Linked DNA regions of Homo sapiens: all the other regions are linked to region 1. Evidence: fine-mapped expression QTL. A gene starts in region 1. Each other region holds a variant in brackets. All regions are shown on one strand. Distances are between the middles of the regions.

Region 1 (2,750 bases):
AAAGCAGACACGTGCTGAGCCTGGCGGCTCCCTACCTTCTGCTTTTCTTTGGCTTATCAAACCGGAAGTCCGCGGGGTACAGGTGCATCCTCACCATGTGATCCTTCCGGTCTCTGCTGGTCTTGAACTTCTCTGTGCAGCCTTCTACCAAGCACTGATACTGAAATGGAGACCGTGTCACCTCCCTCTGACCCCTGGCCCTCCCCCACCGCCATGCCCCCGTAGCAGAGCTGCCAAGGGCGGAAAGGTGTCCCCGGCCTTGCCCGAGCACCCGAGAGCTGGGGGCAGCACTCTGAGCCCATCACCAATGGGGGGTGGCCTCGGCGGCTGTGCAGTTGTCACCCACCATGTCCTGCCTCTCAGACAGGATCTGGAAGAGCGAATCGTGCCACTCCAGGATGTGGGCGTCCAGCAGGTGTCCGGAAGGGAAGGCCCGCTTGCAAAAGGAGCAAACATTTCCGTGCAGCGTGTGGTAGTGGTGCTCGTAGTCGTCCAGGGCATCGAACACCTGGCAGCAGCCGGCCACCTGGCAGGCAAACGCGGGCACCCTGCCAAGGAGACGTGCTTCAGGAGCCCTTCCTCCGGTGCGAGGAACCAAGCTGGACTTTCTGCACAGTTTCCCTTTGAGACGTCCAATAAAGCCCCTATGCATCTTTTGCAATCCCAAACCCTCTTTTTATGAATTAAGTTTCACAAACAGGCTAGGTGGTGGAAGAGTCGGCCACGCCAAAGCTGGACAGGCACAGCGCCTCGGTGGGGCGGCCGCACATGGAAGAGCGGCAGCACAGCCCCAGGGACCAGGCACCGGTCAGGGAGGCGGCGCAGGAGTAGCACTGGCTAGGCACTGCCCATTCGCTTACCTGGGCTTCTCAGGCACGTCGGCCACCTGCATGATCACGTCCTGGAGGTAGAGGTGGCGCTGCACGTCCCCATCCTGCAGGAAAAGTGCGCCGTGGGCGGGGCCAGGTGACTCGCGGCACGCCCACCGCGTCAGGCCTCGCCCACACCCGTGGCCCCAGTCATCCCGCGCTCCGGTCCCGCCCCACAGCCTCAGGCCCCGCCCACTCCACGTTCCGGCCCCGCCCCACCACCTCAGGTCCCGCCTGTCCCAGGCTCCGGCCCCGCCCCGCAGTCGTAGGCCCCTCCCACTCCAGGCTCCGGCCCCGCCTCGCCGCCGTAGGCCCCACTGGATCCTACAACTACTTTTTCCCTCTTTTGCTCACGCACCTCGAAGAACTGGTGCTCCCGCGGGAAGCGCACGGGGCGCGCAACGAAGCGAAAGGGCGCGGCCCCAGCCGCGGGATCCCGCTCTACAGGCAGCGGCTCCGCCGCCCCGGGCCCCGCAGCGAGGCGGGCGCACAGCGCGGGGGGCAACTGCATCACCCCGGGCGCGGGCGGGCGCAGCCTGTCGGCCACCGTCCGCGAGCCGAGCCGGACGTGACGTCACGCTCACTTCCGCCGCCGTCGGGGGCTGCGCGGGGGCTGTGGCTCCGGGACTGCGGTGAGTCCTGGCCGAACGCGGGCGCGGGCGTGATGAGGGGGTTGGGGGACTGCCAGGCCCGGGGGGGCCCACGAGGCGACGGGGCTGGCGGGACGCGGCTCTTCCCGCGCGCTCCCTCTGGCTGTGCAGCGGTCCCCGAACTCTGGGGCCGAAGCCCTTCGGGCCTGCACCGGCCAGGCCAGCGTCTTGCCCCGCGGCCCGACACTCAGCCGGGGCGGGGCGGAGCGGGCCTCCGGGTCGTCCCGGGTGTCCCCTCCCAGCCCTGGGAAGCCGGGTCGCAGGTCCCCCTCTCGCACGCCCTCTCCCGTCCGCCTTGCCCCGCCTGTCGTCTCCCGCTGCAGTCCCTGGATCTTGTTCCCTCTAAACCAGTCGCGAACTGGAGCCAAAGTGACTCCAGTTTTATTGTAACCGTTTTTAATTTAAAGCCCTTGGGTGACTTCCCGTTACTTTAGTTCAAAGGCCCTTTCCTGGTTTGTCGGGGTCCTGTCGACCTCTCCAGTCCCCGCAGCTCCCGTGAAACACAGGACCTGTGCTAGGTGCTCAGGGCGTGTGGGGGAAGGCATCACAGGAGGGCGCGGCAGCCTTGTAGGAGAGACAGACGTCAGAGTAAAGAGTCACCTAATTAAAATGGTGAATGACAACACACGCGGGAAGCAGTGGACGCTTCAGATCTACTGCAGAGAATGGGCCCAGTGGCGGATAGAGGCTTTAGCTTTCTCGTCTGTCACCCAGGCTGGAGTGCAATGGTGCGATCATAGCTGATAGATCGCTGCGGCCTCAAATTCTTGGGCTCAAGTGGTCCTGCTGCCTCAGCGTTCCAAAGAGCTGTAACTGCAGGCGTGAGCCACCATGCCTGCCCCTGTACTTTTTCCATGTTTAGATACACAAATATCTCTGTGTTACAGTTGTCTAGTGTTCAGCACCGCCACCTGCTGGGCAGGTTTGTAGCCCACGAGCAAGAGGCTCCTCTAGGTGGTTTAGGTGCATTGTAGGCCGTACACCATCCAGGTCTGCGAGTGACTCTGATGATCGCACAGAAGGAAATCATGTAACCATACGTTTCTCTTTTTTTCTTTTGGAGATAGTGTCTCTCTCTGTCGCTCAGGCTGGAGTGCAGTGGCGCGATCTGGGCTCACTGCAACCTCTGCCTGCTGGGTTCAAGCGATTCTCGTGCCTCAGCTTCCCAAGTAGCTGGGATTACAAGTGTGCGCCACCAGGCTTGGCCAATTTTTGTATTTTTGGTAGAGAC
Region 2 (2,750 bases), 36 kb before region 1:
CATTAACATTAAAACAGAGACCTTAAGACTAATAGAACAGACTCTGACAAGAAATAGTCCCTTTTATTGATTCTATCTGCATATACTTGGTCTCCACAACACCTTATCTTAACCCTGACTTTCCCTTCTATTGATTCTAGGTCTTTAGATAATAACTTAACTCTTTTGACCAATTGTCAATTGGAAAATTACTGAATCCACCAATGACCTGGACACCCGCCGCCTTTCTGGACCAAACCCATGTACATCTCCCACGTACTGAGTGATGTCTCGTGTCCCGAACATGTATCAAACCAGCTGCACCCCAACCCTCTCGGGCCACACATGTTCTCAGGATCTCCTGGGACGGCATCATGGGCCTTCCGTCACTCATATTTGGCTCAGAATCACTCTCCAAGTATTTTACAGGGTTTCACTCTTTTCCTCGACAACCCCCAGCGGGCAGCTACTGTTGGGGGCTCTGAGACCGCCGGCCTGCAGGGTATGGTTCTCCCGAAGCTGCATGTTCAGACACAATTGGAGGCCGTGCTTCCAAGGGGGTGGAGTGAGGGCCCTCAAGAAAGGCCAACTCAGGAATTTCCAACGTGACCCACAGCGTCTGAGCTATTGAGGAGGGGTCACCCGAAGAAGCCGCTGGGCTTGGGTGAGAACAGATGTTCCTCTGGCCTTCTTGCCTGGGGCTGCTCCTGAAACCACCTTTGCGAAAACCTGATAGTGAATCTGACCTAACCGACTCCACCTTGCTTCTAACCTCCAACCTGTCCTTGTTCATTCCTGGGTGTAGGTCACACCAACTTTGGGAGGATCTTAGTTTATAGTTTAATGTTGAAACAAAGATGAAAACAGCCCCTTCCTGAACAAACCCCCTTCTTGCCTGGGGACCAGACTGCCTTTGTAAAACTAACAAATTAGTCACAAGATTAGAAATTATGGTTTAGGAAACTTCTAGTGGCTTGAGGTATCGGCCGGAGCGGCCGGGTGGCGGGAGGAACCGTTACGGGAACTGAAGTTGCCGATTAAGCCTGATCAAGATGCCAACCTCCCAAAAGCACCGAGACTTCAGGGCAGAGCCCATGGGGGAAAAGCTAGTGGGGAGCCTGGCCAGGATTGGTGAAGTCCTGGGCAAGAAGCTGGAGGAAAGGGGCTTTGACAAGGCCTATGTTGTCCTTGGCCAGTTTCTGGTGCTGAGGAAAGATGAAGACCTGTTCCGGGAATGGCCAAAGGACTCGTGGTGCCAACACCAAGCAGTCCCGGGACTTCGGATGCCTT[C/T]GAGAGCATGCGATGCCTTCTTGTGATGCTCTCCAGGAAGCTCTCAATCCCCAGCCCTCACCCAGAGTTTGTAGCCGAGTCGGGACTCCTCCCCTGTCCTCTACAAAGGAGAAGATTGCTATTGTCATACTCACGTCTGACGCACTCTGGGTCTTTTGGGAGTTTTCTCCCCTAACCATTTCAACTTTTTTGGACTCTCACTCTTGCATGTCTCCCCCTTCCTTTTTCACTTTCCCTGGTGACAGTTACCAGCTTTCCTGAATGGATTCCTGGCCCCGTCCCTCACCTCCACCCTCACTTTCAGTCCATTTGATACTATTTGGCTCCTTTTTTGGCAGAACAGTCACTGTCCTTGTAAAGTTTTTTAGATCAAGAAAGTCAGTGGCTTTCATGAAAAATAAAAAAGAAATTATGTTTTAGGTGTCAGGCAGGACCGGGCGCGGTGGCTCACGCCTGTAATCCCAGCACTTTGGGAGGCCGAGGCAGGCGGATCACGAGGTCAGGAGATCAAGACCATCCTGGCTAACATGGTGAAACCCCGTCTCTACTAAAAATACAAAAAATTAGCCGGACGTGGTTGCAGGCGCCTGTAGTCCCAGCTATTCGGGAGGCTGAGGCAGGAGAATGGCCTGAACCTGGGAGGCGGAGCTTGCAGTGAGCAGAGATCACGCCATTGCACTCCAGCCTGGGTGACAGAGCGAGACTCCGTCTCAAAAAAAAAAAAAAAAAAAAAAAAAGGAGTCAGGCAGCTGGAGGCCACAAGATTCTAAGCCTCCCCAATTATTCTTAGGGAAAACATCACTATTGTAAATCCTAAGATTGGTGCTCGAGACATTTTTCGGACTCTGAACTTGGTGGAACAGCTGGTGCCACCCAGATCCATGAACTGGCTCACCTGGTCTTGTGGCCCCCACTCAGGAAGTGACTCAGCACAAGAGGACAGATTCGACTCCCTGTGATTTCATCTGCAACCCAACCGATCAGCACTCCCTGCTTCCCAACCCCTACCCACCAAATTATCCTTTAAAATTTGAGTAGTGATAAAGCTCCAGCCTCCCGTTCAGCCGGCTCCGCGTGAATTAAACTTTCCGTGTTGCAGTTTCTCTCTGCCCTGATAAATCGGCTCTCTCTGGGCAGCAAGCAGAATGAGCCTGTTGGGCAGCTACACTCCCACCCACCCCTCAGTGGCCGAGTGGCTCCACGGGGGAGGCAGCAGAAGGCCAGTGGCTCAGGGAACTGGGGTCCCCAAGGGGATTATGAGCAGTGATTGGCAGGCCAGCCCGAACTTGAATGGGGTGATCAGGTCTGGAATGAGAAAGGCACAGGGAGCCTCCCCAGGTTCCCACACAGTCCCAGCTGACCTCCCCATTCCTCTGGCCCAACACAAGTCTGTGCATTCACACTCAGGAGACGGGAGACAGCCGGTGGGAAGTAAAGGTCGGGCACCTTAAAAACTGCATCCACACAGAGCGTGGCCCCCA
Region 3 (2,750 bases), 43 kb after region 1:
TGAGGGGAGGAATGGGGCGGGGCCTCTCATCTGGGGTGGGGCCCTGTGGGCCGCGCAGACGCCTCCAGCACACACAAGAGGCAGGAACCTCGGATCCTGGAGCTGGGGGTGCTGGAGGGGCACGGGGGTCCCAGCTCTGACCCAGGCTCTCGGCCCTGTCTCCTCCAGCCTCCGGTCACTGTGTCCAGCCCACCCTTCCCAGTTCCTGTCTACACCCGGCAGGCACCAAAGCAGGTGAGCAGTGGTGATTGGGCGGCCAAGCCTTCTGAGGGTGTCCAGGCCTTCCTGATGGGATTGGGGTCTGTGCACTGCACCGGGGGCCAGGGATCCCCAGGTGGCCCCTGCTGTACACAGAAGGCTGGTTAGCCCGACCTCGTGAGGACATCAGACAGAAAGGCAGGTCAGCGAGGCCACAGGAAGGCAGGAGCTCAGTCCTGCCCTGCGTTGGAGCTGGTTTGGGGGTCCTGGCTCCTTCTCCTTCCACTCAGACCTGCTCCGCCCACCAAGCCCCTCCCAGAGCTGAAGCTCTGGCAGAGAAGAGGACTCCCTGGGGCCCTGCAGGACAGATGGGTGGGTGGGCTCAGGGCAGGGACACGTTCCGCGCTTCCCTTGGGTTTGGGGGCTTTGGGGGTTTTGGAAAGATCTCTCAAAACCCGAATCACTGGAGCCCTGGCATGCTGAGGGTTAACTCCCAGGCCTCCGTGTCCCCCCAGGGTTGGGGTCCTGTCCCTGCGCCCTGGCTCCCACCTCTGGGCTAACCTTGGAGCCCTTTTTGGACCCCGTGGGGGCAGCTCATTGGCCTCAGCCCTGGGAAACCGCTCTGGCAGTGGGTGGAGAAGGACCCTTGAGCTCCCTTCCTGGGGCCACTGACTCAGCTAGGGCAGCAGAAAGGGCCAGGCTTTCTCTCTGGGGCCTGGCACGGGGCCCCAGTGGTACCATCGAGGTCCACTTGGCATTGCGGGACATTGTGAGCAGCCTCTGTCCTCAGAGAGGGCAGGACGGTGGCGGGCAGGCTGGGGCTGGGGAGGTGCCTGTGTGAAGAGGTCCCACGGTGCATCTCCGGGGACCCCCTCCACAGAGGTTCGTGGTCAGCCCTAGGACTGGGCTGTGCATGGAAGACCTGGGGCAGGAGAGCCCCTGCCCTCTGGGTTGAGGCTTTTTTTTTGTTAACATTTAATTTTGAACAAATTTTAGACTTACAGAAAAGTTGCAAAAATAGCCTAGAGAATCCTGCATGCCCTTCGCCTGGCCTGCTCCCGAATGGCCACAGTGTGGGCGCGCAGCCGAGGCTCCACGTCACCAATGCGACCCAGTCAGTACCGCCTGCTCCCTCTGGACGCCCTTCTCCAGCCATGGTCCCCCCAGGCACTCAGCCCCCGGCCCCTCTGCCTTTCCTCAGCTTGCCCTTTGGAAGTGTGGCCAGCAGTGTTTTCAGAGTCCCTCAGCCTGGGTTTGTCCCGTCTTTCCTTGTGTGGATGAGGGCC[C/G]TGCACTGTTGGCGGGGGCAGCACTGGACACACCCTTCCCCAGGCACAGCCCAGGCCTGGCCCACATGCAGCTTCGGTCACGGGGGATGTTGACACAGCGCCTAGTTGGAGCAGCGTCCACAGATTTTTCCTTAGAAAGCTCCTGTCTTCTTTTTATAGTGAGCAGATGCCTCAGGGAGATACCTTGAGACTCTTTGAACCTTAAGCTTGGACCCACTAGTTTTGGCATCCATTGGTGAATATTGGCTGCAATAGTTGTTCTGTGCTGTTTGCCTAATAGTGATTTTCTCTCTTTTTTTTTTTTGAGATGGAGTCTCGTTCTGTCGCCCAGGCTGGAGTGCAGTGGCGCGATCTCAGCTCACTGCAATCTCCGCCTCTCAGGTTCATGCCATTCTCCTGCCTCAGCCTCCCAATGTATCTGAGACTACAGGTGCCCGCGACCATGCCTGGCTAAATTTTTGTATTTTTTTTTTCAGTAGAGACGGGGTTTCACTGTGTTAGCCAAGATGGTCTTGATCTCTTGACCTCGTAATCTGCCTGCCTTGGCCTCCCAAAGTGCTGGGATTACAGACGTGAGCCACCATGCCCGGCCCTAATAGTGATTTTCTATTTCTCTCTTTCCTTTTTAACTTTTTATTTGAACTAACTTCAGACTTGTACGTGAGTTGCAGAAATAGTCCTAGAAGGGGTCTGGACAGGCAAAATGGGGGCCTGAAGGGGGCAGAGAGATTTCTGGCCAAGGAAGTTATGGTTACCAGGCATAGCAGTATATGGGGCAGAGGCTGCAGCAGGAGCCGGGCGTGGTGGTAGATGGGGCAGAGGCTGCAGCAGGAGCCGGGCGTGGCGGTAGATGGGGCAGAGGCTGCAGCAGGAGCTGGGCGTGGAGGTAGATGGGGCAGAGGCTGCAGCAGGAGCTGGGCGTGGAGGTAGATGGGGCAGAGGCTGCAGCAGGAGCTGGGCATGGAGGTAGATGGGGCAGAGGCTGCAGCAGGAACAGGCGTGGAGGTAGATGGGGCAGAGGCTGCAGCAGGAGCTGGGCGTGGAGGTAGATGGGGCAGAGGCTGCAGCAGGAGCCGGGCGTGGAGGTAGATGGGGCAGAGGCTGCAGCAGGAACAGGCGTGGAGGTAGATGGGGCAGAGGCTGCAGCAGGAGCTGCGCGTGGAGGTAGATGGGGCAGAGGCTGCAGCAGGAGCTGGGCATGGAGGTAGATGGGGCAGAGGCTGCAGCAGGAACAGGCGTGGAGGTAGATGGGGCAGAGGCTGCAGC

What was found.
Region 2: its variant is fine-mapped to the expression of TUBGCP2 in whole blood (INTERVAL, PIP 0.97).
Region 3: its variant is fine-mapped to the expression of TUBGCP2 in whole blood (INTERVAL, PIP 0.98).

Annotation. Positions count from the first base shown.
Region 1 is chr10:133,307,574-133,310,323 of GRCh38, reverse strand. It overlaps TUBGCP2 (tubulin gamma complex component 2), which reads left to right and starts at 1,452. Exons shown (of 18, transcript NM_006659.4): 1 at 1,452-1,501. It overlaps ZNF511-PRAP1 (ZNF511-PRAP1 readthrough), which reads right to left and starts at 1,410. Exons shown (of 9, transcript NM_001396060.1): 1 at 1,228-1,410; 2 at 861-934; 3 at 347-548; 4 at 36-160. The coding sequence starts at 1,380. It overlaps ZNF511 (zinc finger protein 511), which reads right to left and starts at 1,410. Exons shown (of 6, transcript NM_145806.4): 1 at 1,228-1,410; 2 at 861-934; 3 at 347-548; 4 at 36-160. The coding sequence starts at 1,380. RefSeq lists enhancers at 925-1,219, 627-1,322, 2,046-2,275 and a silencer at 966-1,815.
Region 2 is chr10:133,343,188-133,345,937 of GRCh38, reverse strand. The region is part of intron 5 of ZNF511-PRAP1 (ZNF511-PRAP1 readthrough); the gene reads right to left. It also overlaps the pseudogene BANF1P2. Among named protein-coding and RNA genes, the nearest start is that of PRAP1, 2.8 kb to the left of the region's middle. The variant C/T (reference allele first, on the strand shown) is at 1,270.
Region 3 is chr10:133,264,836-133,267,585 of GRCh38, reverse strand. It overlaps ADAM8 (ADAM metallopeptidase domain 8), which reads left to right. Exons shown (of 23, transcript NM_001109.5): 21 at 169-234. Among named protein-coding and RNA genes, the nearest start is that of ADAM8, 11 kb to the left of the region's middle. The variant C/G (reference allele first, on the strand shown) is at 1,485.